7 linked regions of the Homo sapiens genome follow. The protein of the gene in region 5 interacts with the protein of the main gene of each other region in a pairwise test. Each region holds a gene or a part of one and is shown on either strand. Other genes may lie near its edges. The genes, in order: STOM, EBAG9, ARL13B, SLC10A1, CFHR5, TMPRSS2 and TMEM237.

The links.
Region 1: the proteins of CFHR5 (region 5) and STOM interact in binary tests that used the Homo sapiens proteins (3 or more experiments, as listed by UniProt).
Region 2: the proteins of CFHR5 (region 5) and EBAG9 interact in binary tests that used the Homo sapiens proteins (3 or more experiments, as listed by UniProt).
Region 3: the proteins of CFHR5 (region 5) and ARL13B interact in binary tests that used the Homo sapiens proteins (3 or more experiments, as listed by UniProt).
Region 4: the proteins of CFHR5 (region 5) and SLC10A1 interact in binary tests that used the Homo sapiens proteins (3 or more experiments, as listed by UniProt).
Region 6: the proteins of CFHR5 (region 5) and TMPRSS2 interact in binary tests that used the Homo sapiens proteins (3 or more experiments, as listed by UniProt).
Region 7: the proteins of CFHR5 (region 5) and TMEM237 interact in binary tests that used the Homo sapiens proteins (3 or more experiments, as listed by UniProt).

What each region holds. Positions count from the first base shown.
Region 1 is NC_000009.12:121,353,251-121,356,750, reverse strand, and holds part of STOM (stomatin), read left to right. Parts: intron 1-594; coding exon 595-698; intron 699-2,077; coding exon 2,078-2,150; intron 2,151-3,448; coding exon 3,449-3,500. UniProt on the Homo sapiens protein: Regulates ion channel activity and transmembrane ion transport. Regulates ASIC2 and ASIC3 channel activity.
Region 2 is NC_000008.11:109,560,673-109,564,172, forward strand, and holds part of EBAG9 (receptor-binding cancer antigen expressed on SiSo cells), read left to right. Parts: intron 1-165; coding exon 166-257; intron 258-3,500. UniProt on the Homo sapiens protein: May participate in suppression of cell proliferation and induces apoptotic cell death through activation of interleukin-1-beta converting enzyme (ICE)-like proteases.
Region 3 is NC_000003.12:94,039,155-94,042,654, forward strand, and holds part of ARL13B (ADP-ribosylation factor-like protein 13B), read left to right. Parts: intron 1-725; coding exon 726-834; intron 835-3,500. UniProt on the Homo sapiens protein: Cilium-specific protein required to control the microtubule-based, ciliary axoneme structure. May act by maintaining the association between IFT subcomplexes A and B. Binds GTP but is not able to hydrolyze fit; the GTPase activity remains unclear.
Region 4 is NC_000014.9:69,780,242-69,783,741, forward strand, and holds part of SLC10A1 (hepatic sodium/bile acid cotransporter), read right to left. Parts: intron 1-3,500. UniProt on the Homo sapiens protein: As a major transporter of conjugated bile salts from plasma into the hepatocyte, it plays a key role in the enterohepatic circulation of bile salts necessary for the solubilization and absorption of dietary fat and fat-soluble vitamins.
Region 5 is NC_000001.11:196,987,556-196,991,055, forward strand, and holds part of CFHR5 (complement factor H-related protein 5 precursor), read left to right. Parts: intron 1-3,500. UniProt on the Homo sapiens protein: Involved in complement regulation. The dimerized forms have avidity for tissue-bound complement fragments and efficiently compete with the physiological complement inhibitor CFH.
Region 6 is NC_000021.9:41,480,659-41,484,158, forward strand, and holds part of TMPRSS2 (transmembrane protease serine 2), read right to left. Parts: intron 1-3,500. UniProt on the Homo sapiens protein: Plasma membrane-anchored serine protease that cleaves at arginine residues. Participates in proteolytic cascades of relevance for the normal physiologic function of the prostate.
Region 7 is NC_000002.12:201,626,504-201,630,003, reverse strand, and holds part of TMEM237 (transmembrane protein 237), read left to right. Parts: intron 1-151; coding exon 152-275; intron 276-582; coding exon 583-774; intron 775-1,854; coding exon 1,855-1,928; intron 1,929-2,589; coding exon 2,590-2,683; intron 2,684-3,500. UniProt on the Homo sapiens protein: Component of the transition zone in primary cilia. Required for ciliogenesis.

The sequences.
Region 1 (3,500 bases), on a different chromosome or scaffold from region 5:
TCGGCCTCCCAAAGTGCTGGGATTACAGGCGTGAGCCACGACGCCCAGCCTCCACTTTCTTTTCGTCGATATTTTCTTACTATTACATCCTTCAGGAAACCCTCTGACAGCCACCTGAATCACCTCCCCGCCCCATTCCTTTCTCACCTCCATCCTAACTGCGTGAGTTAACTCATTCTGTGTCTTCAAAATATTCTGAACAGATACTCTATATCTGTACTTACCACCTAATATTATAATTATGTGTTTGTCTGACTTTCCCACTAAACTTTAACCCTGAAAGCTGGGATTGGGTCTTACTCATTGTTATCATTTCAGTACAAAGCAGAGGGCCTAATAAATAGTAGATGCTTAATAAATGTTTGCTGAATAAAGTAATGAGTAATGTGGAAATATACTTGTGTTATGACATCACATAGATAAGGGAAAGTAGTACTTACACTTCAGGGCTGTATGAGGATTAGATGGGGAAATTCATGTAAAACAGCTGGTGTAGTGCCAAGCACATAGGTATTCAGCGAATGGTAAGGATGAAGATGGTGGTGATTATGCTAGTAACAGTTGTGAGAGTTGTATATTTTTTGTTTTCAACAGACAGCCCCAGTAAGGGCCTTGGACCTTGCGGATGGATTTTGGTGGCGTTCTCATTCTTATTCACCGTTATAACTTTCCCAATCTCAATATGGATGTGCATAAAGGTAAAGAACATTTCATTCACTTCTGGGAAGGGGTCAACTCCTACCTCCATAAACCTACTTCGTGTGTGCCTGTGTGTATGTGAGAAAGAAACAGACTGTCTCTCTCTCTTATAATTCTTATTTCTTCATCTTTCTTTGGAAAATTTATTCTTCTACCCACCTATTAAAATGGAACCTTAAAACTTCTTTTCAGCCATTGCCCTTCCCCGTGGGCTAAAGTAAGTTTCACCATCAAAAATTTCCTGGGGCCAGGGATGTGAGATGGTTCTGAGAGAACAAGTTCTTCAGAGTTAGGATGATAGGGTTTGACTGCTGGCTTTACTGTTTATTGTGTGACCTTTGCTGTTTCCTCACCTGTAAAATGGGAGAAAGTAACAGTACCTACTTCATAGGAGTGTTGCGAGGATTAAATGAATTATGTGTCTAAATGTACTTATCACAATGCCTGGCACGTCATAAATACCCTCAGTGCTCGTTATTTTTTCTACAAAGTTGTTAATACTTTGATATATGACTATTATTTACATATTTCTAAGAAGATAAAATATGCTCCAAGCATTTTCAGATCAATTTATTCTTAAGGGAATCAGAAGAAAAACTGTGAAGACTTCAGCTTTTTGTGTTTCTGAATTAACAATGCATGAGTAATTTTTTTTTTTTTTTTTGAGCCAGAGCCTTGCTCTGTCGCCCAGGCTGGAGTGCAGTGGCGCGATCTCGGCTCACTGCAACCTCCGCCTCCCAGGTTCAAGCGATTCTTCTGCCTCAGCCTCCCGTGTAGCTGGGATTATTATTATTATTATTATTTTTTTTTTTTTTTTTTTGAGACGGAGTCACCTTGTGGCCCAGGCTGGAGTGCAGTGGTGCGATCTCGGTTCAAGTGATTCTCCTGTCTCATCCTCCCTTGTAGCTTGGATTATAGGCACCCACCACCATACCCGGATAATTTTTGTATTTTTAGTAGAAACAGGGTTTCACCATGTTGGCCAGGCTGGTCTTGAACTCCTAACCTCCGTGATCTGCCCACCTCGGCCTTCCAAAATGCTGAAATTACAGGCGTGAGCCACCGTGCCTGGCCTGCATGAGTAACTGAATAACAATGTTAACAGCTGAGGAGTGAGGTTATGGATTTGTTTCTGTATACTATTCTGTCCTTCCTAAATTTATACAGTGAATATCTATTGCTTTTGTAATCAGTAAGAAAATAATAAATAAGCTTTGAGAAGGTAAACATTGGACATGTGATTTATAGATATGATCTGGTTCTAAAGAAAAAAGATGAGGCATCTAATCTGTTTAGAGCAGAAATATATATTTAAGAAGCCATGCATGTATATATTTGTACTCTTCATGTTAAATTATTATTCATGTTTTTATTCTAGATTATAAAAGAGTATGAAAGAGCCATCATCTTTAGATTGGGTCGCATTTTACAAGGAGGAGCCAAAGGACCTGGTCAGTACTGGGATTCTAGATTGTTTATCTGAAAACTAAAGTTCTTTTTATTTTTTTTATTTTTAGGTAGTTGTTTTTTTAAAGACAGGGTTTCATTCCGTCGCCCAGGCTGGAGTACAGTGGCATGCTCATGTCTCACTGCAGCCTTGAACTCCTGACCTCAAGCAATCATCCCACCCCAGCTTCCCAAAGCACTAGGATTACAGACGTGAGCCACCGTGCCCAGTCTAAAATTTTTTTATTGACGTGATTTCCCTTATGAGGGCCTCTTCTACTCTGTCTTAGATAAGAGTTCATGTAGCAGGAGTTGTATAACAATAGCAGTGGTTCTAGCCAATCTTTTGTTACCCTTTCCTTCCTACCCTTCCCCTCCCCTTCCCATTTGAGCTGATAAGATTACCACCTAGGCCAAGAACAGTACAGCTATACAAGTTTGAGCATGAGAATCTCTACCAAAGAAAGACTTTCAGTCATTCATTTGGCAAACTTCAATTAAGCTCCTACTGTGTTCCAGGTTCTGGGAATTCAAGGGAGACTAAAACACAGTCCCTACCCTCAAGGATCTTCCTATCTAGTGGTAGGAACCAACAAGGAAACAGATAGCTACAATCCTATGTGATAAGTATTATGATCAAGTACTCACAGAGAGCTGTGAGAAAAGAGAAAACCAGAGAAGTGTTACTGATCTGAACTAGTCGTAGGCTGAGTCAAGGCTTTCTGGAAGTTACATCTTGACTGAGTCTTGAGGTCTGAAAAGGTGTTAACCAACAGGAGGTGTTTGCGGCGGAAATAGCAACATACACAAAGCAACAAAGAGGAGAGTATTGCAGATTCAAGAAACTGCAAGTAGATCAGTCCAGCAAGAGTGCAGGGTGTGAAGAGAGAGGAAGTGGCTGAAGAGGGGAACAAAGGCGGGTTATGCAGGACCATGCGTGGGGGAGGGTTTGTATTTTAGGGGGGATTGCTCGGCTTGCAGCTTAGGAAATAGATTATAGGAGAGAAACTACAAAAAATAGAAAGATGGCCTGGGAAACGATTGCATTGGTCCCAGTGGGGCGGTGGGGAGAAGAGTGATAGCAACAGTAGATTAAGGAAATGAACTCCACAGACCTTAGTGGAGACAGTCAAATGTGGGAAGTAAGCAAGAGGAATCAAAGTTATCATTCCTGGCTTCTGGCTCATTCACGAAGATGAACTGGTGACTTTTCAGTTCACTAGGTTGATTTTCTTAAAACTGAATGGAGAAGTGAACTGATTAGGTTGCTGGTGTCTGTATAATGTGTGTATCTTTGTTGCAGGTTTGTTTTTTATTCTGCCATGCACTGACAGCTTCATCAAAGTGGACATGAG
Region 2 (3,500 bases), on a different chromosome or scaffold from region 5:
CAAAAGCAAAATCATCTGTGCCTTGTATAGGACAGGGTAAGGAAGCTGAGAAGACATAGGAGAATGACAGGTTCTGAGTTATGTGTTAAAAGATACTCTTTTTAACGGCTATGTGGAGAAAGGATGGCTTTTACTCTCTTAATTTTGTTTTACTTTTCATTGTAGTCTGAATTAGGTGACTTAGATACCTGGCAGGAAAATACCAATGCATGGGAAGAAGAAGAAGATGCAGCCTGGCAAGCAGAAGAAGTTCTGAGGTATTTGAGTGGCATTTATATTGCAACCTGAGTAGAAGAACTAGATTTCTTCCCTGCTGTGTTTCAAGTCAAGGGAGCCTATTTTGCCAAATATTATATTTTTCTTCATTTGATCCTTAGATAATAAGGACTTTTTTTTTTGTATTTCAGACTGCAGATACTATTTTATATGATTAAAACCTCACAGAAACCAAGAATTTTAAGCTCTATAGGAACAAAATAACTTTATTAATGGCAAATGGAGTGTTATATATACATGTATATAAAAGGTTTTATATATATGTTTTATATATATATATATAAGGTTATATGCATATACATACCATATTACAAGCTTGATATTCCTCTAGGTCAGAAGTTACAACTTTATTTCCATTTCCTCATGATCTAGCATAGTGCCCAGTACTGCTCATTTGAGTGAAAATAACTTATGTGACACTCTACATTTGTACATATATCTTAAATGATGTCCATGAAAGCCCTATGTGTTAGATGAACTACCCATTCTGCAAAAAAATACTATTCTGGAAGTTTTAAAGTTCATTTTTATTGGTTGTTCTTTTTTGTGTGTGAGCAGCAAACATATTTCTTAGTACTGCTACATTAGGTCAAAGAGTAAAGAGAAAATTTATCTTAAGGGAGAGCTAGTGACTGATTACTGCTTTTTAAAAGTCAGATATTTAAATGCATCTAAAGAATTCATACATTTTTTAAATTGTGTAGTAAGATACAGCAATATAAATTTTTTTATTTTAAAATTGAGATTGTTTTTACCATAGGAATAGCAGACAAATTATTCTTTATCTGACTCAACAAAAAAACTGATTTCATTTTTGTATTTTCCTTTCTTGGCTTTGTCAATAAATTACAGTTACTGTGAACAACCAGCAGAGGGTGCAGCTAAATAACTGGGAATTTTGTTTGAAGTTTTTGTTTTTTTCCTTTGAAATATATCAAGCCCTTTTTTTTTTTTTTTTTTTGCAGGTTAGGGGACGTCACATTTCAAAATTCAGTCAGTAAAATTGTGAGAGTTTTTAAAATTTAGTTCTTATTTAATCAGTATAGCTTATCTTTTATAAAGGGAATATTTTTTAAATTGTGAACTATAACACTTAGGATATTGCATGGATCATCAAAAAAGATAAATCATCTCTTTAAAATTCTGTGTTATTTTAAAAAACAAATAATAGATACAGATGTCTGAGTATTTTAAGACATTTTGGGGATTCTAGTAATTATTAGTGCCATTAACCACAAAGACAAAGGAAGGGGTCTGTCCTTTTTAAATACAGTAATCTCACTGTAGAGTTCAAGCCATGAGTTCACAAGTATCTTAATATTGTACAAAAACCTTTTCTTTTTCATTCTAGCCTCTTAACCCCTAAGCAAAACAAATGAAAAAATGTACTTAAAAACTTAATGTTTTACCCTTTAAGGACAGCTTGGGAGAGTGAGATTGTTAATCCGTAATAGACATGCTTCATGCCGCAAGTACATAGGTAGAGCCAAAGAGAAATGGAGGTGTCAGTACATTGTTACTGCCCCTGAATAGACATTGAGCATTTTAAAAGTGTATCCACATTCCGTATTGTCTAACTCTGAGCTTTTTTCCTGTTGCCACTATAAATAATGCCAGTACTGTGATCAGTATTGCTAAGAATGAAGATTCTGGTACTTTAATAATTCCCAGCATGAATCTGGATAGGTAAAATGTATTTTTGTCTGCAGCTATCTCGTAAGTTGTCTCTTTTATACTTTAGTTTTTGATACAGATTGGGTATCCCTTTCCAAAATGCTTGGGACCAGAAGTGTTTCAGATTTTGAAATTTTTGAGAGTTTAGAATATTTGTGTTCTGCTGCTAGTTCATCATCCCAAATATGAAAATCTAAAATCTGAAATGCTCCAATGAGAATTTCCTTTGAGCATCAGGTAGGCCCTCAGAAAGTTTCAGATTTTGGAGCATTTCAGATTTCGGATTTTTGTATTTGGGATGCTCAGCCCTTATATTATTTCAGCTAGTAACCAGGTCAAAACTTCGTTATCTTACTTGTTTATAACCTAGCCAGCCCTTTATAATTTTTTCTCTACCTCCCTTTTTTCTTCTGGTTTGACATTTTTAGTTCAGATTATTAGTTTTTATTGAACATCAGCAGAGTGATGAAAAACAGATTTTTTAAAACTATTCTTCAGAAATTGATAGCAAAAGTCAAAATGTTGCCAAAAATAGTTTCTTTACTTTCTTGAATTTTGGTCATCCATAACTCTGCCTACTCCTGTTTATGACTGAGAACTGTACATACATTTCACTCACTGTAGTTAATATTGAGCTCCCCCAGACATAGATAATCCACTTTGGATTTTTCTGCATATAACCTAATGTTGCCTATTCCATGCCCAATTGTGACCTGTAGCTTCCTTCCTCAACGTTGCATACTTGAATGATTTTCTCACACCCTAACCCTTCAGATCCAGGACCAATGTATGTTTACTCTGCTCTCTCCTGTTTCATCATCCCACTCCTACCTCCACTCCCTACATTAACCAATCAGTAAAGATAGAGAGAGTGAGTCTGGGTCAGTGGAGTTACGGAAAGAGTAAGGAACAGGTATGTATTTCACAAAGTATGATTAGTAAATACCTACCACTCTTTTTTTTTTTTTTTTAAACTTAAGTTCAGGGGGACATGTGCAGGATGTGCAGGTTTGTTACACAGGTAAACATGTGTCAAGGGGGTTTGTCGTACAGATATTTCATCAGCCAGGTATTAAACCTAGTATCCATTAGTTATTTTTCCTGATCCTCTCCCTCCGTCTAACCTCAGCCTTTCCGGTAGGCCCCAGTATGCATTGTTCTCCTCTATGTGTTCATGTGTTCTCATCATTTAGCGCCCACTTATAAGTGAGAACATGCAGTATTTGATTAAATACCCACCACTCTTCTCTTTGGTAGAGTTAGTCACATGTTAATCCTGAAATTTACTTGGTGGAAGGTGTATCTTAAGTTTCCATTTTCTTTTTGGAGCGTGTGTTCTGTTCAGCTGTGTTCATCATGCACTTTAAAAACTGGCTGTTTGTAACTACTATAATAACAGGAGATTATCAAGCTCAATATCAAGCTTTTCTGAATGGTATCCCCAGAAAAAGATGTGGTTCAATGGAAGTATTGTTTTACAAAATGGAGATAATCTAAATAAGAAGTGTCAGAAGATGTGAGTTCTTATCCCTGTACTTAATCCTATGACT
Region 3 (3,500 bases), on a different chromosome or scaffold from region 5:
TTCCTAGTTTTGTAAGAGAAGACTTAGCCCTTAAGAAAAGAATTAATAAGAATAATTACTATTTGGCTGGGCGCGGTGGCTCACACCTGTAATCCCAGCACTTTGGGAGGCAGAGGCAGGCAGATCACAGGGTCAGGAGATCGAGACCATCCTGGCTAATAGGGTGAAACCCCGTCTCTACTAAAAATACAAAAAATTAGCCAGGCCTGGTGGCGGGCGCCTGTAGTCCCAGCTACTCAGGAGGCTGAGGCAGGAGAATGGCGTGAACCCGGGAGGTGGAGCTTGCAGTGAGCCGAGATGGTGCCAATGCACTCCAGCCTGGGCGAGAATGCAAGACTCCGACTCAAAAAAAAAAAAAAAAAAAAAGAATAATTACTATTTGTTAACACCAGTAAAGAGGACAGCATTGATTTTGGAGGGTAATTAATAAGTTGATCAGTAATACCCTTGGCACATGGAAGAATAATTGCACTGTTGATATTAAGAAGTCACTCATAGGAAATGTCATTTTTATCAGCATTTTTTTAATTGAAATGATTAGTCTTTACATGGGAGGAAGCAGCCTCTTACCTGCATAAGGATTTTTGAAATGCTCTCAGTAATTCAAAACCATGTCCAGATGTTTAAATTACTACATGTAATAGCCTTATACCTATTGCAGTTTTCTTTAACATGGTTCAGCACTTTCTCAAAGGAAATTTCAATTATTTTTCCTCAAACGATAGAAAACAAAATGAACAGGAGCAGGCTGAACTCGATGGAACCAGTGGTCTGGCTGAGTTGGACCCAGAACCAACGAATCCTTTCCAGCCAATAGCATCTGTAATCATTGAGGTATGAATGATGGCAAATGTAATTTTTGTATCTTAAGTTATAAGTTGGAACTTGGAAAAGAAGGTGGAAAGTTGGGAAAGGAGGCAGGGAAACAGATGTGTTTCTTCTGAGAGATTATTTCTATAAGAAATTAAACATGAGAGACTGATTAAAGGTTTACTGCTTTTTCTTACTCTTAAATTACCTTTGAATCTAGTGTGAAAGGGGGAATATGACTTCAGAATTAAATGACAATAAATAAATTTGACTGTAGCAATTATTATAGTTGCTGTGTTGACAAATCTATTCTGTCATTTATTTCATATAGTAATAACATATTTACTCTTATTTACATTTTCTGTGTTTCTGTATTGCTGTTACTGTCCATCTGCAATATTTACTTAGAATGCATTAGGGTACATAAACAATTTTCTATTTTTCCAGGATACTTAAGGATGTTTGAAACTGCAATAAATTCTCCTATATCTGAATATCATTTATTTCCATTTTAAATCAGAAATTTTACCAACATTAATTTGTAGATTTTAATTATGAAGACGTTAAGGGGTTGTGTGTGTGCGCGTCTGTGTTTTTGTTTTCATTTTCTGCTCATGTCCAGAGTTTGCATTGGCTCTGCTTTTATGGCTGGCAGCAGCGATGCCTCTTCTGAGGCATTGCTTCCTAAACCTTAGGCTGACTTCCTGGTCCTACCTGGAAGGTTTTTTTTTTTTTTTGTCTCCATTCTATCAGATATTATATTTGTCAAGTTTTGTTTTATGTTCTTTTAAAAATATTGAGAGAGAAGAGGTCAAGTTGTACTTTTTACTTTGAAACAACAATTATTCTCTGTGTATAATAAGGCTTGCTTTATAAATAATGGCTAATTATTTTATAGTACCATGGGTATAAATTGTGTAGAAGGCTCTAGTGCTTCTCCCAGCACCGTATTTCCCACAATGTATAGAAGTGAATAATAGTGGTGTACGACATAGTATATATCACATATAGAAAGTTCCCAAATTAATAAGTGGCATGGGGAAAGTACACTTAACGCTTTGAAACTACAATTTCAAGAAGATGGCCAGTAAAGAAATAAAAGCAAATTAGCTATAGTTTTTTTTTTTTAACCATACAGATTTTCTCTTTTTTTCCCCACAAAACTTTTTTAGCATGTTTCTTGGTACAGAAGCACCTAACATTTTTTTTTATTATTACTGCAGATAATTAAAATGGTGAGATATTGGAAGGTATTGGTTCCAGAAGAGACAGACAGATCAATGGAACGAATATTAATAAACCTATTTATGTATGAGCATTTTAGTACAAGATAAAGATAACATTTCAAATCTGAGAGAAAAAAATAATAGAACAACTTAATAACCATTTAGAAAAAGGAAAATTATTGAATATTGTATACCCAGTTAAATTCCAAAAGTATCAAAAACTTAAATACGTTTTAAAAAGTGAAAGTCTTCAAGTTACTAGTAGATAATATAGATAAGTCTTTATATGTGCTTGGAGGAGGAAAAAATTTCAAAGCAGGACAAGCAAGCCACAAATCATAAAGGAAAAAGGTGGATAGATCTTATACTACCCAATTTTTAAAGAGCTATTCTACAAAGTTAAAAAGCAAAAATGAAAAGAAGTAAACTCTAGTGAGAAATAGAACACATAGTCTTATGTGACTCTGTGACTAGTCCTAGTGACACGTATGCACAAAAGAACTCTTACAAATTACTATGAAAATAATGAGAATCTAATAGAAAAGTGGGCATTGGGTTACCAAAGGCAGTTTCCTAAAAAAAAATTAAAAATGTCAATAAGTGGCCAGGCACGGTGGCTCACGCCTGTAATCCCAGCACTTTGGGAGGCCGAGGTGGTTGGAGTTCAAGACCAGCCTGGCCAAGACGGTGAAACCCTGTCTCTGCTAAAAATACAAAAAATTAGCCAGGCGTGGCACGAACCTATAATCCCAGCTACTCCGGAGGCTGAGGCAGAGAATTGCTTAAACCTGGAGGGGTGGAGGTTGCAGTGAGCCGAGATCGTGCCACTGCACTCCAGCCTGGGCGACAGAGCGAGACTCCATCTCAAAAAAAATAAAATAAAATAATTCAATAATAGTTCATTTTTGCTGGCAATAAAAATTTTAACTTAAACTCAAATGAAAATAACACTAAGTTAAATAAAAATATGTATTAATACGGCAGAGATGTAAAAGGTCAATCATGATATGTGGTATTGAATATGATGTAGAAAAAAATCACTCTCCCAACCCTTTGCCTGAGGTTCATTGATTCATTTTTTCTGAAGGGAAGTTTGTGACTATATGTGACATTTTTAAATTTGCCTACCCACTGACTCAACAGTTCTACTGTTAGCAATTTAATCTAAAAAAATTAAAAAAAAGCTATTAGGATGATTCTGTTTTTTAAAATAGTGAAAAATTGGAAATACTTTGTTCATTGATACAGAATTGGTATGCTATAAACATTCAAAATAATAATTGATGAAAATAATTGTATCTAACATTTATGTAGCATTTACTATGTGTAAGGCACTGTTCTGAGCACTTTATATATTCATTGGCATGGAAAGAAATGTATATTCTTCAATAAAAACTTCAATTCTTTTTTGTTTAAACAACAAATACATAAGTATATATAGATACATATATTTATGTATGTTTC
Region 4 (3,500 bases), on a different chromosome or scaffold from region 5:
GGATGCAACCTTTCAAAGTGCATGTGCACTCCATGCACTTTGTACTTTCCAGTGTGCATTTTAGAGAATTGCGTCCTCCAAAATGATAAACAGGTATGTGTAAATTTAAGACTGTCCCTTTTATCTCCTGAGTAAAGAAATACTTAACTTTTCTCAAACTTACCATGTTATTTTGTAATAGTTACATGTGTTGGTTCATTTTTTGGTTCATTCACATGTGTTGCATTTTATATTTCCTAGTAACATTTTAAAAAAGTAAAATATGTATAGCAAAGTTTGCCATTTTAATCACTTTTGAGTGTACAGTTCAGTGGCATTAAGTACATTCATAATGTCCTAACGACATTTTAACATTTATATTGCTCAAATTTCAGCTGCACAGCTTTGTGTTTCTGTTTTTAATACTTGTTGCAACTGATATGATCATATAAAACATCACCTATACCAATTAGTGGTCCTATCCCAGCATAGGAAGGACTTTCACACATCTCTTGAATAACCATGTGCTTCAAGTTTTATTAAAAGACTTATTAGCTAATGAACTTCTCAGTTTACCTTTGCATTTTTAGTTGATTTCCCCTTTTAGATTTCTGTCTTTCGAATTTGTCCTTTACCCAACAGTCAAATAATTTTTAATCTCTATCAAGAGTGGAGTGGATAATGTAGGAGACATTGAGTTACAGGAATTGTCCACGAATCCAGAAGCCCTCTTCTTCTGTATAGGCATTCACTCTTATTCTCTCACTCATGTTCTCTGACTCTTGGGGACTGCACAGTTGTGGTTATGAGCACATAATTTGATATGATCCTGGTGGGAAAGCTGCCTCTGCTAGTCTCCAGGTGTGTAAGCTCTGGGGAGTCACTCAACCTGAGTGAGGTTGACGGCATAGGACCTGGCATATAAGAACCGCTCACTAAACTGTAACTCCTGTTATTACTCAAAGGGGAGGAATTAACATTCTAGAGGTTCCTGTCACTCTCACTGCTGCCATCTCTGGAAATTTATCCTGTCTACAACCCCTGTCTCCTGCTGAGACAAGTGGCCCCGGGTAGTTGCTTCTCCATAGGCTACCACATTTTGTACCACCTGACTTCATTGCCCTGCTCACAACTGGGATGAGTGCTCATTCATGGGCAGCCAATCCATTGGCTTACACATGAGATGACATGTCCACAGTCTACCCACAAAGGTGGCCCGCACAGGCTGGTGAGTGGTAGAAATAATCAGATTCTCTCATTTAGGAAGTTTGCAGGATTACAGAGAGGGAAGCAATAGCAGGGACAAGTGTCAGAACAGAGGTCTGGGAGCAATAGCCACAAGTTGGCAGAAGTTGTAAGACAAAGGAGAGTTAGGGGTCAGTTCAGCAGTAGCAGCAGGTGTGGGAAATGCATGAGTAGAGTGTTGAGTCAATGAAATGGTGGGATCCTTATTAAAGAGTGGTGGATGGCTTATGGTGAAAGTGGCTCCTGGACCATGTCATTCTCAGATTCATCACCCTTTTAGCCACATAGCCTTTGGATAAACCCTTGCATGGGTAAGTTAAAAATTACTTGAATTGCCTTTTAAAATGAGCATGCCTGAAATTGTATCTTGGTATATCTAAATGTGACCTTCCACCAGCGAATGCAACTGGTTGAACCCGGTGTGAGCAGATACCTGCTGCCAGAGCTAGTTATTGAAAGTTGGGTTATTTTGATTTGCAAGGTCCAAGGAGGGTTATGTGTGCGTAAGAGGCTAGGACAATCATTTGTTCGTTTTCCAGTTTGGCACTCACTATATTATTTATGGGACAGGGTGACGAAGGATGAGCATAGTCCTCGAAGAGCCATAGAAGCAAGGAAACCTTAGCTTTTGCAGCTTGACCCACATGTTAGTCTCTGCATCCTCACAGGAGTGATTCCAGTTTTGGAATATAGGAAGATCAGTGTAGCTGTTGACTTTGTGGTGGTTTAACCCTGGAGGTTTAGCCAGGGGCAAAATGGGTCCAGGGCATGCCTGGGTTTTTTAGATTACCTTTTATGTAGTCCCTTATTACTAGTCTCTGTTTTTCCAGCCAAGGTATTTCTTAGCCCTTTTAATGTTCTCTGGCTTCATTTTGACTTCATTTCGTCTGTGGCATTGAGTAGTGAATGTGCAACACAACAGGAACAGACTGGTTGAAATAATCCTGGCTCTGCCAAGTAACTTTTCCGGGCCTCGGTTACTCTATCTGCAAATTGGGAATAAGGCAGGAGACTGAACTTCATCTTAAAGGCTTCTCCAGCTTTAAGATCTGAGATTCTCGGCAAGGTGTGGTGGCTCACGCCTGTAATCCCAGCACTTCGGGAGGCCAAGGCGGGGAGATCACAAGGTCGGGAGATCGGGACCATCCTGGCTAACACGGTGAAACCCCGTCTTTACTAAAAAATACAAAAAATTATCCGGGTATGGTGGCGGGCGCCTGTAGTCCCAGCTACTCAGGAGGCTGAGGCAGGAGAATGGTGTGAACTCGGGAGGTGGAGCTTGCAGTGAGCCGAGCTCGCGCCACTGCACTCCAACCTGGGCGACAGAGTGAGACTCCGTCTCGAAAAAAAAAAAAAAAAAGGGTCTGAGATTCTGCTTTTTGCAACCTCAGAGAAACACTTTTAAAGCTACTCTGAGGTAGAAAAGAGACATGTTCTCACATCAGTTGTCATTAGCACTATGACTTGGTATTCTGTTTCCCAGTTTTCCCACCTATAAAATGGAGGAGGGCAGAGTAGCATTAAATGATAGCAGTGGTCACTTCACATTTTAATATTCTTTATATTTTATATGCATTTCTTTAAGATCGTTTATGGGTGTATAGGATTTTTTAAAAAAGCAATCTTATGCACCCCACAAACTATCTTAAAAAAATGAAATGATGCACACAAACATGTTTCTCTGTGTATGTTGTTTTTCTGCTGGTGTGTGGAAGAGCAGCAGACAGGACTTGCCCTTCATTCCTTTATTTATTCTCAGGCATTAGCTATGGGGGCACTGTGATAGGTGCTGTGGATTCAGTGTTAATTAAGACAGCCTTATGGTCTTGCTTCTTGATAAATGAGTGGGGAATAAAAATGAACAGATGTTCTTAATGCAGTGTAATAATTGCTACAGGGGTTAGCTGGAGTGTTGGGTGTTATGGGAGTGAATAGGACAAGCATCTTACTCAGGCTTAGGAGGTTAAGGAAGGCTTCCTGGGGGAGGCGCTATTTGTGTTGAGACTTAAAGGATGAGTGGGAGTGATCCAGTGAAAGATGGTGAGTGGGGTGAGAATTGGGAAGAAGAGTGTTCCAGGTGAAGAGAAGGGCACGTGCAAAGAGAAAAGAGCTGAGACTGGTGAGGTCAGTTGAAACCAAATCAAGAAGTGCCACATTAAGGAGTTTAAACTATCCTAGGGGGAAGGAGTCAATGAGAGGCTTTAAGCAGTGGAGTGACATGATAGAGTTTGTACTTCACATCTTCACCCTCAGGTTAGAACTGGGTGAGGAGGTTG
Region 5 (3,500 bases):
GATCCAGTTTCAGCTTTCTACATATGGCCAGGCAGTTTTCCCAGCACCATTTATTAAATAGGGAATCCTTTCCCCATTTCTTGTTTTTCTCAGGTTTGTCAAAGATCAAATGGTTGTAGATGTGTGGTGTTATTTCTGAGGCCTCTGTTCTGTTCCATTGGTCTATATCTCTGTTTTGGTACCAGTACCATGCTGTTTTGGTTACTTGTAGTATAGCCTTGTAGTATAGTTTGAAGTTAGGTAGCCTGATGCCTCCAGCTTTGTTCTTTTTGCTTAGGATTGTCTTGGCAATGCAGCCCCTTTTTTGATTCCATATGAACTTTAAAGTAGTTTTGTCCTATTCTGTGAAGAAAGTTAGTGGTAACTTGATGCGGATGGCATTGACTCTATAAATTACCTTGGGCAGTATGGCCATTTTCACGATATTGATTCTTCCTCTCCATGAGCATGGAAAGTTCTTCCATTTGTTTGTGTCCTCTTTTATTTCGCTGAGCAGTGGTTTGTAGTTCTCCTTGAAGAGATTCTTCACATCCCTTGTAAATAGGATTCCTAGGTATTTTATTCTCTTTGAAGTAATTGAGAAGGGGAGTTCACTCATGATTTGGCTCTCTGTCTGTCTGTTATTGGTGTATAGGAATGCTTGTGATTTTTGCACATTGATTTTGTATCCTGAGACTTTGCTGAAGTTGCTTATCAGCTTAAGGAGATTTTGGGCTGAGACGATGGGGTTTTCTAAATATACAATCATGTCATCTGCAAACAGCAACAATTTGACTTCCTCTTTTCCTAATTGAATACCCTTGATTTCTTTCTCCTGCCTGATTGCCCTGGCCAGAACTTCCAACACTATGTTGAATAGGAGTGGTAAGAGAGGGCATCCCTGTCTTGTGCTGATTTTCAAAGGGAATGCTTCCAGTTTTTGCCCATTCAGTATGATATTGGCTGTGGGTTTGTCATGAGTAGCTCTTATTATTTTGCCATATGTTCCATCAATACCTAGTTTACTGAGAGTTTTTAGCATGAAGCGCTGTTGAATTTTGTCAAAGGCCTTTTCTGCATCTATTGAGATAATCACGTGTTTTTGTCATTGGTTCTGTTTATGTGATGGATTACATTTATTAGTTTGTATATGTTGAACCAGCCTTGCATCCCAAGGATGAAGCCAACTTGATTGTGGTGGATAAGCTTTTTGATGTGCTGCTGGATTTGGTTTGCCAGTATTTTATTGAGGATTTTCACATCGATGTTCATCAGGGATATGGGTCTAAAATTCTCTTTTTTTTGTTGTGTCTCTGCCAGTCTTTGGTACCAGGATGATGCTGGCCTCATAAAATGAGTTAGGGAGTATTCACTCTTTTTCTATTGATTGGAATAGTTTCAGAAGGAATGTGACCAGCTCCTCTTTGAACCTCTGGTAGAATTCTGCTGTGAATCTGTCTGGTCCTGAACTTTTTTGGGTGGTAGGCAATTAATTATTGCCTCAATTTCAGAGCCTGTTATTGGTCTATTCAGAGATTCAACTTCTTCTTGGTTTAGTCTTGGGAGGATGTATGTGTCGAGGAATTTATCCATTTCTTCTAGATTTTCTAGTTTATTTGCGTAGAGGTGTTTATAGTATTCTCTGATGGTAGTTTGTATTTCTGTGGGATCGGTGGTGATATCCCCTTTATCATTTTTTATTGCATCTGCTTGATTCATCTCTCTTTTCTTCTTTATTAGTCTTGCTAGCAGTCTGTCTATTTTGTTAATCTTTTCAAAAAACCAGCTCCTGGATTCATTGATTTTCTGAAGGGCTTTTGTTGTCTCTATCTCCTTCAGTTCTGTTCTGATCTTAGTTATTTCTTGCCTTCTGCTAGCTTTTGAATGTGTTTGCTCTTGCTTCTCTAGTTCTTTCAATTGTGATCTTAGAGTGTTGACTTTAGATCTTTCCTTCTTTCTCTTGTGGTCATTTAGTACTATAAATTTCCCTCTACACACTGCTTTAAATGTGTCCCAGAGATTCTGGTAAGTTGTGGCTTTGTTCTCCTTGGTTTCAAAGAACATCGTTATTTCTGCCTTCATTTTGTTATTTACCTGGTAGTCATTCAGGAGCAGGGTGTTCAGTTTCCATGTAGTGGTGCGGTTTTGAGTGAGTTTCTTAATCCTGGGTTCTAACTTGCTTGCACTGTGGTATGAGAGACAGTTTGTTGTGATTTCTGTTCTTTTACATTTGCTGAGGAGTGCTTTACTTCCAACTATGTGGTCAATTTTGGGATAAGTGCTATGTGATGCTGAGAAGAATGTATATTCTGTTGATTTGAAGTGGAGAGTTCTGTAGATGTCTATTAGGTCCGCTTGGTGCAGAGCTGATTTCAAGTCCTGGATAACCTTGTTAACCTTTTGTCTCATTAATCTGTCTAATAATGACAGTGGGGTGTTAAAGTCTCCCATTATTATTGTGCAGGAGTCTAAGTCTCTTCGTAGGTCTCTAAGGACTGGCTTTATTAATCTGGGTTCTCCTGTTGGGTGCATATATATTTCGGATAGTTAGCTCTTCTTGTTGAATTGATCCCTTTACCATTATGTAATGGCCTTCTTTGTCTCTTTTCATCCTTGTTGGTTTAAATTCTGTTTTATCAGAGGCTAGGATTACAACCCCTGCTTTTTTTTTTCCTTTCCATTTGCTTGGTAGATATTCCTCCATCCCTTTATTTTGAGCCTATGTGTGTCTCTGCACGTGAGATAGGTCTCCGGAATACAGCACACTGATGGGTCTTGACTCTTTATACAATTTGCCAGTCTGTGTCTTTTAATTGGAGCACTTAGCCCATTTACATTTAAGGTTAATATTGTTATGTGTGAATTTGATCCTGTTATTGTGATGTTAGCTAGTTATTTTGCCCGTTAGTTGATGCAGTTTCTACCTAGCATAGATGGTCTTTACAATTTGGCATGTTTTTGCAGGGGCTGGTACCGGTTGTTCTTTTTCATGTTTAGTGCTTCCTTCAGGAGCTCTTGTAAGGCAGACCTGGTGGTGACAAAATCTCTCAGCATTTGCTTGTCTGTAAAGGATTTTAATTCTTCTTCACTTATGAAGCTTAGTTTGGCTGGATATGAGATTCTGGGTTGAAAATTCTTGTCTTTAGGAATGTCGAATATTGGCCCCCACTCTCTTCTGGCTTGTAGAGTTTCTGCCGAGAGATCCACTATTAGTCTGATGGGCTTCCCTTTGTGGGTAACCCAACCTTTCTCTCTGGCTGCCATTAACATATTTTCCTTCATTTCAACCTTGGTGAATCTGACAATTATGTGTCCTGCTCTTCTCGAGGAGTATTTTTTTGGTGTTCTCTGCATTTCTTGAAATTGAATGTTGACCTGCCTTGCTAGGTTAAGGAAGTTCCCCTGGATAATATCCTGAAGAGTGTTTTCCAACTTGATTCCATTATCGCCCTCACTTTCAGGTACAGCAATCAAACGTAGATTTGGTTTTTCACATAGTCCCATATTTCTCGGAGGCTTTG
Region 6 (3,500 bases), on a different chromosome or scaffold from region 5:
GACGGAGTCTCGCTCTGTCACCTAGGCTGAAGTGCAGTGGTCTGATCTCCACTCACTGCAGCCTCCGCCTCCCAGGTTCAAGTGATTCTCCTGCCTCAGCCTCCCGAGTAGCTGGGATTACAGGCGTCCACCACCCCGTCCAGTTAATTTTTCTGTTTTATTAGAGATGGGGTTTCACCATGTTGGCCAGGCTGGTCTTGAACTCCTGACCTCAGGTGATCCCCCTGCCTCGGTCTCCCAAAGTGTTGGAATTACAGGCGTGAGCCATTGCACCTGGCCTTGTCCCAACTTGTATCGTCCTAGCTGCTACCCAAGCCCCGCGCTCTCCACGGCTCCGGAGGTGGCAGCACAGTTCACTCTTCTCAAGGCACTGACCGCACACAAAGGGAGGCCACAAATCTATTCTTTTTCTGCTAAAAAGTGCTCTCTACACAAGAGAATTGAAAACAGGCATTGGGTCCAAAACTTGTACAAATGTTCACTGCAACCCTCTTAAAACAGCTGAAAGGCGAAAACACTCCAAACGCCCACCAACGGCTGGGTGAGCAGAATAGGATATGTCCAAGATACACAATGGAATACGATTCAGCCAGAAGAGGGAATGAAATTCAGACACAGGCTGCAACCTGGATGAGTGCTGAAGACCTTATGCTCAGTGAAAGGAGCCGGACATACTGCATGAGCCGACTCACATGGAATGCCACTTATATTGTGTGAGCCCACGTATTGCATGATCCCGCTCACATGGAATGCCTAGAGTAGGAAATCTATAGACACTAAGTAGATTAGTGGTTGCTTATGAGTAGGAGGGACGGGCTGGGAGGAGGGATATGGGGTGATAGTTCAAGGGCTTGGGGTTTCTTTATGAGCTGATGAAAATATGCTAAAATTGACTGTGGTGATAGTTGCACATATTCGTGAATATATAAAAGCCAGTGAATTATATATTTAAATTTTATGGTACATACATTACATATCAATAAGCTGTTTTATATAAAAAATTATATCTCAATAAGCTATTTCATATATATGTTTTATATATAAAAGCACTGAATTATATACTTGAATTTTATGGTACATAAATTAGATCTCAATAAGCTGTTTTTAAAAATATATAAGATAAGCCAGGCATGGTAGCTCACGCCTGTAATACCAGCACTTTGGGAGGCCAAGGCGGGCAGATCACCTGAGGTCAGGCGTTTGAGATCAGCCTGGCCAACATGGAGAAACCGATCTCTACTAAAATGCAAAAATTAGCCAAGTGTGGTGGCACGCATCTGTAATCCCACCTACTTGGGAGGCTGAGGCAGGGGAATTGCTTGAACCCAGGAGGTAAAGGTTGCAGTGAGCTGAGATCACACCACTCCACTCCAGCCTGGGTGACAGAGCAAAACTCCGTCTCAATAAATAAATAAATAAATAATAAGATAAAAGGTTTTTTTTTTTAAAGTGCTCTTTAAGAGAGCACTTTGAGCAACAAATTGTCCAGGAGACTCTAAATCAACATTCTGCTGAAATGATCTCAGCTCTTTTATTTAAAGAAACAAAACATTACAAACACCGTTGAAGTCGCTCCCTATTCCCAATCTCTTCTCTCCCTCCCTAGAGGTAACCACCATCCAGAGTTTTGGGGACTTTTTGCTGGGCAGGATAATACATGGGGTGGGCGTATTCACAGAACAGAATCCCATGCAGCTTAAGGGTTAAGCAGAGCATCATGAACAGGAAGAAGCTTGAAAACAGCGCTGTGGGAAAGAGAGCAAGTGATAAATGATGCGTTCAAGTATCACGTTATTCATGCAAAGCTGAAAGCATGGAAACAATGCTGTGTGGTTTGGGAGAAATACACATGGGCTTAAAGTATAAAGTGAGGACCTGGCTATGCTCTAGCCTCTCTTCTTACTTCCTACGAGTGGCCCTGACTCACTGGACAGTCTGGTACCTGTGGGCTTGTTCCCCCATGAAATGACTTGGGTCTGATTATTGTCTAATGCCTCTGTGGTGAGTGATTCCACATCCTATCTGTGAGTCGGTCACAGGTTACATGAATGGATAAACATTGTGCTACATCTGGACAACGGAATATTATTTGGTGCTAAAAAGAAATGAGCTATCAAGCCATGAAAAGGCATGGAGGAAACTTGAATGCATATTACTAAGTAAAGGAAGCCAACAAAGTGAAGGAAGGTGTATGTGGTGAAGGCTACATACTCCATGATTCCAACGCTACAACATCCTGAAAAGACCAAAACTTCGGAGGCACTAAGAAGATCAGATAGCTGGGGTGAGTGGGGAGAGAGAAACAGGTGCAGCAAAAGAGGTTTTAAGGCAGGAGAACTACTCTGGACGATACTATCATTGTGGCTGTACAGCATTATGCATTTGTCAAATCCCACAGAACTGTACAAGAGAAAGGGTGAAGTCCAGGACTTCAGTTCATCATAATGTATGCATCAGGTTCATCGGTGTTAATGAACGCACAGCACTGATGTGGGATGTTCATAACAGGGCAACTGTGTGCTGGGGAGGAGTACAAGGAGCTCGCTGCCCTGTCTGTTTCATTTTCTGTAAACCTAAAACCGCTCTAAAATATAAAGTCTGTTCACTTTTTTAAAAGTAACTGAAATGAATACACTTCTTCTTCTTCTTCTTTTTTTTTCTTGTTCCCAGGCTGGAGTGCAATGGCATGATCTCAGCTCACCGCAACCTCCACCTCCTGGGTTCAAGAGATTCTCCTGACTCAGCCTCATGAGTAGCTGGGATTACAGGCATGCACCACCACGCCGGCTAATTTTGTATTTTTAGTAGAGACGGGGTTTCTCCATGTTGGTCAGGCTGGTCTCGAACTCCTGACCTCAGGCGATCCCCACCCCCTCCGCCCCCCACCTCGGCCTCCCAAAGTGCGGGGATTACAGGCGTGAGCCAGCACACCCGGCTCAAAATACACTTCTATGATTAAAAACAAAACTGCCACTGTGGCTCAAAGGGAGACACTTCATTCTTGGCTTGTGGGTAATTTTAGGGATTTTCTTTCCCTTCCAGCTATCTGCACCCGGAAGAGACGGCAGCTGATAAGCCAGAGAGCTGGAAAAGGTCTCAAGCTAGTCCTTTTTTTTTTTTTTTTAAATATTAGGATTTTTTTTCTCAGCTTTGTCAAAGTATAGTTGACAAATAAAAATTTTACATGTAGGCCTGGTGCTGTGGTTCATGCCTGTAATCTCAGCACTTTGGAAGGGCAAGGCGGGAGGATCACTTGAGCCCAGAGTTCGAGACCAACCCCATCTCCACCAAAAAATATAAATATATATGCATTAGCCTGGCATGATGGTACATGCCTGTGGCCCCAGCTTTTCAGGAGGCTGAGGGGGAAGGATGGATTGAGCCCAGGAGGTCGAGGCTGCAATGAGCCATGACTGAGCCACTGCACTCCAGACTGGGTGACAGAAGGAGACCTTGTCTCAAAAAAACCCAATTGTACATGTTTAATGTGTACAGCGTGA
Region 7 (3,500 bases), on a different chromosome or scaffold from region 5:
TGAAATAGGTACTGAGTCAAGGAGAATTTTCAGATAGAACAGCAATATTTCAGTCTTAGTTTGCGGCTTCCTGAGTATGGAATTTAAAAAAAAAAATGGCTACCAGGGTTCTCTCTCGCTAGTTGTTAGTAATTACGTTATGTGTTCTTAGGGAGATTCCAGGCTGCTGATCGTTCAGAGTTGATAAAGACCACAGAAAACATAGATGTGTCAATGGACGTGAAGCCTTCCTGGACCACCAGAGATGTGGCACTTACAGTGCACCGGGCTTTCAGGTGGCTGCTTTTGTTGGACTTTTCTTAAAATAAATGTTAACTGAGTTCTGTAATTAAAGAAAAAAATAACCTCTTGGTTGTTCAGTATTATTAATGAAATCACAACTTAAAATGGTAGGTAGGTATATTTTTTAAACATCCTATTGGAATTGAGTGATCTACCTATCAGTGTAACTAAAAAGAAAGAGCTTGCTTTTACTTGTCATGAAATGTTGAATTTTATTCTTGTATATGAAGAGATTTTAAACATGTTTTAGCTTTTTACTTTAGTAATTCATGTATAATAATCAAACCCTTTTCCATTCAGGATGATTGGTCTCTTTTCTCATGGATTCTTGGCTGGCTGTGCTGTGTGGAATATTGTTGTGATATATGTTCTAGCAGGAGATCAGCTATCCAACCTCTCAAACCTTCTGCAACAATACAAGACCCTAGCGTATCCATTCCAGAGTCTTCTGTACTTGCTTTTGGCTCTGAGTACAATTTCAGCTTTTGACAGGTAATGCCTATGACTCCAGATCTGTCTAACTTCTTCAGGAGGAAATGCTGAGCAAAATGTGTCACTGACCATGATAGTTTTCAAAATAGAATTATAGAGTATCAATGTTACTTCAAAAAGTTTTAAGGCCAGTCTACTTCTGTTCTTTTTTGAGGGGATGAGACCATTGTAAACAAAATATTCCCAAAAGACTTCACCCATTCCAGCATCAATTCATAAGTCCAAAATTTCATCCAAATATAGTCAACTCAGAAGTTCCTAAATGTCATCTAAATCAGGTATAGGTGAAACTCAGAGCATTTGTATTTGTCTCCTAGCACTGCTGTAACAAAGTACCACACACTGGCTGGCTGAAAACAGCACATTTATTCTCTTATGGGTCTGGAGGCGAGCAGTCTGCAATCAGGATGTGGCCAGGGTTGATTCCTTTTTCCAGGGCTCTGAGGGAGAGTCTGTTTCATGACCTTCCCCTCACTTCAGTGGTTGCTGACAGTCCTTGGCATTCCTTGGCTGTAGATGCATCATTCCAATATTTGCCTCTATCGTCATGCAGCACTTTCCCCCTGTGTATCTCTGTATCTGTGTCTATTCTAATAAGGACAGCAGTCATACTGGATTAGGGTTCATCCTAATGACCTTATCTTATCTTTATTACATCTGCAAAGACCCTGCTTCCAAATAAGGTCACATTCATAAGTACTCCAGGTTAGGAGTTCAACATATCTTTTTGGGAACACAATTTAGCCCCTTTTAAAAAAAATCCACCGAGTTAGAGCCCAATGATATGGGTAATAGAAAGAGGTAGAAACTAATGAAATTTTATAGATCAAGTTTAATTTTCTTTAGGATGTTTTAACCCCAAAGGAATGTTGTCCAAAGTAGTCTAGTTAGATGTTTTATGTGGCCTTTGTAAATTAGATAATTTTGTCATGCGTGTTAAGTATACACTGTAGCTACTTAAAACCTAGTAATAGTATATGTGCTAGCATTAGACTAGAGAAGGAAAAAACTATAGTCAAGAAAGTAAAGTTTTGTTAAGTTTACAACTGCGCTGTGACAAGAAACTTTTATATTTTCTAGGATTGACTTTGCTAAAATATCAGTAGCAATCCGAAATTTTTTGGCCCTGGATCCTACAGCTTTAGCATCTTTCTGTGAGTAAGCAGTTTAACATGATAACTGTGTAATACTTCAGTTATACCATAATTTTGAACCAGGATAAATATAATTTTTTTTAAAAGTTGTATTACTGCTCCTTATAAACATTACCTATAGATGTTCAGTGAATTTGTAATTAGAAACATAAAAGGCATAATATTGATAGAATTATTTTTTCAATTGAGGTTCATCTAAATAACTTTGAAAAGCTTAATTTATTGTACTATATTACTTACTTTTTAACTTTTGTATTTTCTACTTGACATTAAACAGATTCAGCGGGTATGGCCTTTTAATAACAAACAATATTTTATATCTTTCTGATCATTTGGAATGCATTTTGTTCTAAGTTTTGAGAATATTAATAAAACTAGTTTTAGGACCTTGAGCAAGTCATTTAACTTTTAAAAAGATGTTCTAGGTTCTTGTCAGTTCTAATGATGAAATAGTGAACGTCTCAAAAGATCCTTCTGCACCTATTGTTCTCAAAAATTTATATAAGGATGTCTGGCCTATTGAAATATATTTATTTGGTCAAATAAATTTCTTTTATATCATCAGTCATGAAAGTATAGATTATTTTCGATATTAATCTATAAATTCAAAATAAACCAGGTTGTTAAAAATTATTAGTAATTTCATTTGTCTTTTTCTCAGTGTACTTTACTGCTCTTATACTATCTCTGAGTCAGCAAATGACAAGTGACAGAATCCACCTTTACACACCTTCTTCTGTTAATGGTAGCCTCTGGTAAGAATTCACAATGACATTAGCAATTGTTAATGGCAATAACAGCAACTTTTCTTATCCTTCCATTCTTTTTCAACTGCAAATAATGAAGGCTCTGTTTTTGTTTCCAAATATATGGCAAGAAAATACTTATTCCTTTGGTTAATGGGTAACTATTGTTATGTCCACCTGCATTTTTAATGAAATATCTTCCTTTTAAAAATCTGTTTTAGATCTTCAAGTTATAGTTTTTTTTTTTTTCGAGATAGAGTCTCGCTGTGTCACCCATGCTGGAGTGCAATGGCACTATCTCGGCTCACTGCAGCCACCGCCTCCTGGGTTCAAGCGATTCTGCAGTCTTAGCCTCCTGAGTAGCTGGGATTACAGGCACCCGCCATCATGCCTGGCTAATTTTTGTATTTTTGTAGAAATGGGCTTCACCATGTTGGCCAGGCTGGTCTTGAACTTCTGACCTCAGGTGATCCACCCGCCTTGGCCTCCCATATTGTTGGGATTATAGGCATGAGCCACTGCGCCCAGCCAAGTTATAGTTCTAAAATAAGTCATCATATGATGGACGGAAGGAGCCCTGCATTCTTACCCCCTGTCAGGGAGTTTCATATCCCAGAACAGTGATGGGAGTGAGTAGCTGGGATAGATTCAGAAAACCAAGCAATGCTAGAAAGAGCGGAACAGGGAGAGCCAACATCTGCAGATCAGCGGCCAGCCATGAAGCTGACAGGATGGCTGAGATTATAGTTCATAAAACTTAGAGAAGCAGTCTTTTTTTTTTTTTTTTTTTTTTTTCCCCAAATGCTGCACGTAGCATCCAAAAGTA